Homo sapiens: one gene and its partner. The protein of the gene in region 2 purifies or fractionates together with the protein of the main gene of each other region. This does not show direct contact. Each region holds a gene or a part of one and is shown on either strand. Other genes may lie near its edges.

Region 1 (3,500 bases), on a different chromosome or scaffold from region 2:
GGGCAACAGTGAGACTCCGTCTCAAAAAAATAATAATAATAATAATAATTTACTTATTATACAATGTATACAGCCACCTAATAAGTATTACTACTCCTTTGCCTAACAATTCCCTCACCCTCCTCCTACACCCCTCCCCTAAATAGTTAAACACTAGGCAGGTGTGATGTTAAGTGCCCTGAAAAGAAAAAAAGTTTTATTCCAGACTGTAACTAACACTAGCTGTTGACCTTAATCTCAGTCTGTTTGCTTAATAAAAATGTCCCCACCTTGAAAAGTTTTGAGAATTAAGAAAGGACTCTAAATAAAGCATGCTGTGTCCAAAACGGTAACCATTCACCACATGTGACTATTTGAATTTAAATTAAGATTAATTAAAAATTCATTTCCTCAGTTGCACTAGCCATATTTCAAGTGTGCAATAATTACATGTGGCCAGGCCAGGCACAGTAGCTCACATCTGTAATCCCAGCACTTTGGGAAGCCAAGGCAGGAGGACTGCTTGATCCCAGGAGTTCAAGACTAGCCTGGCCAACATGGCGAAACCCCGTCTCTACCAAAAATACAAAAATTAGCCAGGCGTGGTGGCACGCCTGTAGTCGCAGCTACTCGGGAGACTGAGCTAGGAGGATAGCTTGAGCCCGGGAGGTGGAGGCTGCAGTGAGCCGTGATCAAACCACTGCACTCCAGACTGTGTGATAGAGTTAGACCCTGTCTTAACAAAAACAACAAAAAACAAACCTACACATGGCCAATGGCTATCATATTAGAGCAGATAACAAATATTTCCATCATCACAGAAAATTCTACTGTGCAGTGCTATTCTAAAGCACCTAGAGCAGAGCCTGGCAAATGGTAGATTTCTCATTTTACCTGGCAAATAGTGACAAATCACAAACATAATCATCATGCTATTTTAACTTCTCTCACCACTTTTCTAGGAAAGAAAAATTCTGTCCTTTAACACTTACAACTAACAATTTAAATCATTCAGGCTAAAGTCCAAAACTACATTTATTGATGTACAATATTTTAACTATTCCCAACTTAGATTTTTCTTATAACTGACATTAACATTTGAAGAGCAAAAAAGAGAGAAGGAAGCAGCAGCAACAGCAACCAACCTACCAATACTTGATTGAAAGGCATTAGGATATGTCCATCTTTTCCAAGCAGGTTAAAATCTAAGGTGTGGATTTTGTTCTACTCTGGCAACCTCATTTTTCCTACCCTTAACCTAGATCCTAACAAAGTGGTATAAATATCTGGTAACCTCCTCAAACTTTTAGATAAACAAATAGCATCAACAGTAGGCAAAGGCCACAATTTTCTAATGACTTAATTTTCCAAATAAGTTAAAAGTTTGTAATTACAAACAAAACAAAACAAAACAAAACAAAAAAAAAACCAGACCAAAAAAAAAAAAACCAGCTTCTGGCAAACACAAGTCTTCCTTAAACTCTTACATAGGACCAGGTGCAGTGGCTCATGCCTGTAATCCCAGCACTTTGGGAGGCCGAGGCAGGCAGAACACTTGAGGTCACTAGTTCAAGACCAGCCTGGCCAACATGGTGAAACACCATCTCTACTAAAAATACAAAAAAAAAAATTAGCCGAGTGTGGTGGCAGGCGCCTGTAATCCCAGCTACTTGGGAGGCTGAGGCATGAACCCAGGAGGTGGAGGTTGCAGTGAGCCAAGATCACACCACTGCACTCCAGCCTGGGTGACAGAGCAAAACTGTCTCAAAAAACAAACAAAATAAAATAAACTCTTACATAGTATATGTCACATTAAATTCATCCCATCCTTTTTCTAGACAAATTATCAGCAAGAAACATTATGCAAGCATTTTGACTAACTTAGGACAATGCTTTAGTCAGAAAACAGAAGAGTAATATTGGAAAAAAGAGAAAAATATACAACAAAACTGAATTTTAGAGATCAACTAGACTAGATCAAGCCAGGCAAATCCACTGCAGAAACTCTAAAATTTTTGCAAACTTATGTGTAAAGCAGGTTTCCATTAAAAATTTAAGGAAAAAAATGTTTATTTTGAAATACAAACTAACTGTATTTCCTACTTAAGTTTATCATAACAAGTACAGTACAACTAACAAAGTAGCAGCTCAAAAGTTGAATGCTGCAGGAATGATTTAACAAGTTACCAAGCAGCCAGGAGCAGTGGCTCAGGCCTGTAATCCCAGCATTCTGGGAGGCCAAGGCGGGTGGATCACTTGAGGCTGGGAGTTTGAGACGAGCCTGAACAACATGGAGAAACCCCATCTCTACTAACAATACAAAATTAGCTAGGTGTGGTGGCACACGCCTGTAATCCCAGCTACTCAGGACGCTGAAGCAGAACTGCTTGAACCCGGGAGACAGAGGTTTCGGTGAGCCGAGATCATGCCATTGCCCTCCAGCCTGGGCAACAAAAGCGAAACTCCGTCTCAAAAAAAAAAAAAAACAACAAGTTACCAACCTAGCAACACTTGATTACATAGAGCACACACATCACATTATGTCCAACATTTCCTTTATCAGACCGGGCAAAAAAAAAAAAAATCTTAAAAGCACTAACTTACTATCAAATCTCAAGAAACAGAAGCAATTTCAAAAAATCAATACTATCCTTTTGGTCAGTAACACTTTCTTCATTCCTAATGTATGAGAACAATAAGGACATTTTAGCTCCTTTACTCTTCCTTCATTTAGTGACTTCCACATTTCTCTCACATATAACTTATCAATAGATCTTCAGCACTGTGATTTTGGCAATAAACTTACAGGTTTTTGCCCCACTAACACTACCACAAAAAAATTAAGATGTTTAATCAAAAATTGCTATTATATGGATGGTTAAACACACTGTGGTACATCCATATCATGGAATACTACTTGGCAATAAAAAGGAATAAACTATTAGCTGGATGTAGTAGCCCTGTAGTGATCCCCCCTACTCCGGAGGCTGAAGCGGGAGGACTGCTTGAGTCCAGTAGTTTGAGGTTACAGTGCCCTTTTGATAGAGCCTATAAATAGCCACTACACTCCAGCCTGGGCAACAGAGGAAGACTCTATCTCTAAACCCAAAAGAATGGCAAAATTATACAAATAGAGGACATGTACCGGTTGCTGGAGCCTGCAGCGAGAGGGGATGGGAGGGCGGTGGGAGAGATAATGGATGTGGTTCTAAAAGGGCAACAGAGGGGGGTACTTTGGACTGAAGGAACTTGTTCTGTAGCCTAATTGTAGTGGTGCAATCTATACATGGGATAACGCTGCATAGAAGTAAATACAGTCAGCTCTCATTATCCTTGGTGTCTGCATCCATAGGTAAAAACTATTTTTAAAAATACAATAAAAAATACAAATTTTTAAAATACAGTATAACTATATAACAGTAATATTGCATTAGGTATTATAAGTAATCTAGAGATATTTAAAGTATACATTCGCATAGGTTATATGCAAATACTACACCACTTTACATAAGGGACTCAAA
Region 2 (3,500 bases):
TGTACCAAGAGACTGGATTATCAATTAGCTGTCTTTGCTGTCATTTTCAAAATTTTGTTAAGGATTTCAATAGGAGATATATATGTATATTTTTAACCCCAATTAATGTAATCTTTAAAGTTTAAGTTTAGAATCCCCTAGAGAATGAGAAAAACACCACAATCTGCTTCCATCTGGTGGCAGGAGTTCACAGTACAGCCAGAGCTTTGTCATCAAGTGTATGTTGATGAGGGGAGGGGAAAAAAGAAAATCAGTCTGTGTCTCCATCTGGTGGCAGCAGCTCATACTACAGCGAAAGACCAGGGCTGATAACTCATTAATTCCCAACAGACAACAGGTCAACGTAGAAGCTTACTGTTTGAAAGAACATAATCCGATGATGCCGCTCTATCCTTAATAGATATACATTTCAAAAATGTGCATTCAGATTTCAAAACAGGAAAGTCTTAGAGCGTTTTGAGGGAAAAAACTGTTAAGTAGCCTACCTGTGTAAAATATTTCCCATCCTGTTTCAACACTTTCATTGAGAGGTCAAGAATCAGTCTGAGAAACTCCCATGTGGAATCTGAATGTTTAAAAGAACAAGTTTCATAAATATGGGTTTGTATGTATCCACAACATCTGAAGTAAAATATTCGAATACTCAATACCAAAAGAGGAAAAAGAAAAAGAGCCACGAGTGTAAGACCCACTATTCAAAGAGCTTGTTCATGAACGATAATGAAATTGATTTTGGATGCCAAAATCACATCCACCTAGCACTGCTCGCTCTCAAAATACCAATAGATTTGACACAAAGGCAGTGGCTGAAACGTGAAAGAAAACTGCTTTAAATAAGGGGGCAAGCAGCAAAATCCTGAGAGAAATTCAGAGCCTGCAAACTCAGCAGGAACTTGAGTTTATAGAAAAAAACACGAACTAGCTGTGATTTGGAACAAACATCTGGTTTGAGAAAGGGAATTATCTATGTCGTTGCTTAGATAAGTGACCAGTTTGTACCAATACAGGTTGAAAATCACATAATTTAAATAAATTGTCAAATGATTTACTGTCTCATTAATGTAATGAGTCATTTTACTTCATTTTTGTTTCAAATGACTGAATTAGTTCACTCATTGAGTGGCAGAACAGGAATTGAAGCCAAATCCAGTCATCTTTCCACCATGGACCTCAATTTAACTCCCTTTTTCAAAAACGTGAGAGAACTACACAATCTCTAGGATCCTTTCACCCTCACATGGTGCCAAGAGAAACATTTCCATCATAAATATCTTGGTTAAAAAAATCTACCTTCTTCTGGAGACGTGGAGATTGGAACAGCTGTCAAATCATTAATCACATAATCAAATTCTCTCCCTTCTTTGGCGTACCTCTTCAGTACCGGGATACAGTCTTCTATTAGAACCTTCCAGAAAGAACAGGAATAGATGAGTGAGCCAACATGTGGATGTAGTTAAACAAAAAACAATAGTAAAGGAAGGAGGAAAAAAGCGCCAAGTATGGGCTTATATCCACAGCTATCCACAGCAACTGCTACAGGAACCAAAAAACTTTCATCTATGTCTGTTAACAGCAAAAATTAAGTGCTTACCATATATGCTTTATATGCCTTCTCATTTCAATAAAACAACAATCCTAGAGGCACTATTATCATCCCATTTTACCAATGCAGAAACAAACTTGAGGTGTTATCCAGCTTGCCCATAGATCCACGAAGTATACCTATTACTATCTGAAAGCCAACTTCATACTTTCATCTCTAATCTATACTGCCTCTCCTATCACTATCTGTATCATCTTCTTTTAATTTTTATTTTTTTAATTAATAAACTATTTTTAAAAAGTTTTTCTAGAGACAGGGTCTCACTACGTTGCCCAGGCTGGTCTTGAACTCCTGGGCTCAAGCAATCTGCCCACCTCAGACTCTCATAGTGCTGGGATTAGAGGCATGAGCCACCGTACCCAGCCTAATTTTTCTTTTATACTAAGCACTGAATGACTTCATTGTTTATGGATTCACTTTTGCACCTTACTCAAACTATTAACATGTTATTTCTCAATTTTCTCTAACGCTTGGGCTACTGCTAATAAAGCTATATATAACAGCTCCCACCATCAGAGTCAATAAAGAGACCAGCTGGAATTCCCATACAGATCATATATAGTTAACACAGAAAAGAAGTTTGAGGTTGGCTGTATCTTTGAAGTACTGAGGCTCTATGCTGGGGACACATCTGGATCTAAGCAACATCCTGAACTAAACAGGAGTTACTGTCATCTTTTAGTTTTCTAATTCAAAAAAAAAATACATTAAGTAAAAGAAAAATTAAATATAATAGTCAGAAACCAAGAGTTTAAGAGTTTGCCAGGCTGGGGTCAGTGGCCCAACACCTGTAATCCCAGTACTTTGGGAAGTTGAGGTGGGCGGAACAATGGAGCCCAGGAGTACTAGAGCAGCCTGGGCGACATGGTGAAAGCCCGTCTCTAGAAAAAAAAGAAAAATCAGCTGGGCCTAGTGGTATCTGCCTGTAGTCCCGGCTACTCAGGAAGTTGAGGTGGGAGGATCGCTTGAGCCCGGGAGTTTGAGGCTGTAGTGAGCCATGATCATCGCGCACCACTGTGCTCCAGCCTGAGTGACAGAGCAAGACCTTGACTCAAAAAAAATTAAAAAAAGTTCACCACAATTCCCTAAGATAACCTATCCCATGTTATTTCTCATCATTCTTCTTATAGCCTCACAGTTATAATTTTAAGAAACTGGGACTTTTCTGTCCTATTGTTTTATAACTTGCCTCAATGCATCATACAAGTCCAACTATGGAAAAATATAGGAGGTACTAACACCACCGTTGCTTTCAATCCATGTATTAATCCTGTTTGATATGCTCATATTTTTTCCATACGTTCACACAGATTCTTACGAATACTTGCACACAAACACAAATGTATGTTCTCTTTTGTAAAATTTGAATCCCACACATCATTTGGAACTTGAACATTTCACCCAACATCTCTCCAGGTAATAACACACATTTTAAAAAATACACCATTCCACTAAAAACATTCTTTCTGTTGTCATTGCCAAGCCTTGGTCACTACAAGCACAGCTATAATAAAACCTTGTAGTGACACCTTTTTAACTGTGGGCTGTGTGCTCAAACACCGGCTAGAAGCCGTGTGTTCCGGTTTTGATAGCAATTCACACGCCAACCAGCAATGCATATGAGCACCTGTCTCCCCACAACCTCCCCAGCATGAGATATTGCCCCTCTACTAAATTTTGTGAAGTCTGTTGCTAATGTTTTCACAAGAACTTCCTGGGCCACCAACAGGGTTGACCGTCTTGTGGTACTTTTTTTTTTTTTTTTTTTTGAGACAAGTCTTGCTCTGTCGCCCAGGCTGGAGTGCAGTGATGCGATCTGGGCTCACTGCAAGCTCTGCCTCCCGGGTTCACGCCATTCTCCTGCCTCAGCCTCCCGAGTAGCTGAGACTACAGGTGC

Evidence for each region. Proteins that work in one complex are often made in the same cells at the same time.
Region 1: the proteins of SMS (region 2) and NAA15 fractionate together in Homo sapiens (co-fractionation; one large-scale study listed by BioGRID). This does not show direct contact.

The regions. Positions count from the first base shown.
Region 1 is NC_000004.12:139,304,505-139,308,004, reverse strand, and holds part of NAA15 (N-alpha-acetyltransferase 15, NatA auxiliary subunit), read right to left. Parts: intron 1-3,500. UniProt on the Homo sapiens protein: Auxillary subunit of N-terminal acetyltransferase complexes which display alpha (N-terminal) acetyltransferase (NAT) activity. The NAT activity may be important for vascular, hematopoietic and neuronal growth and development.
Region 2 is NC_000023.11:21,982,209-21,985,708, reverse strand, and holds part of SMS (spermine synthase), read right to left. Parts: intron 1,406-3,500; coding exon 1,291-1,405; intron 566-1,290; coding exon 486-565; intron 1-485. UniProt on the Homo sapiens protein: Catalyzes the production of spermine from spermidine and decarboxylated S-adenosylmethionine (dcSAM).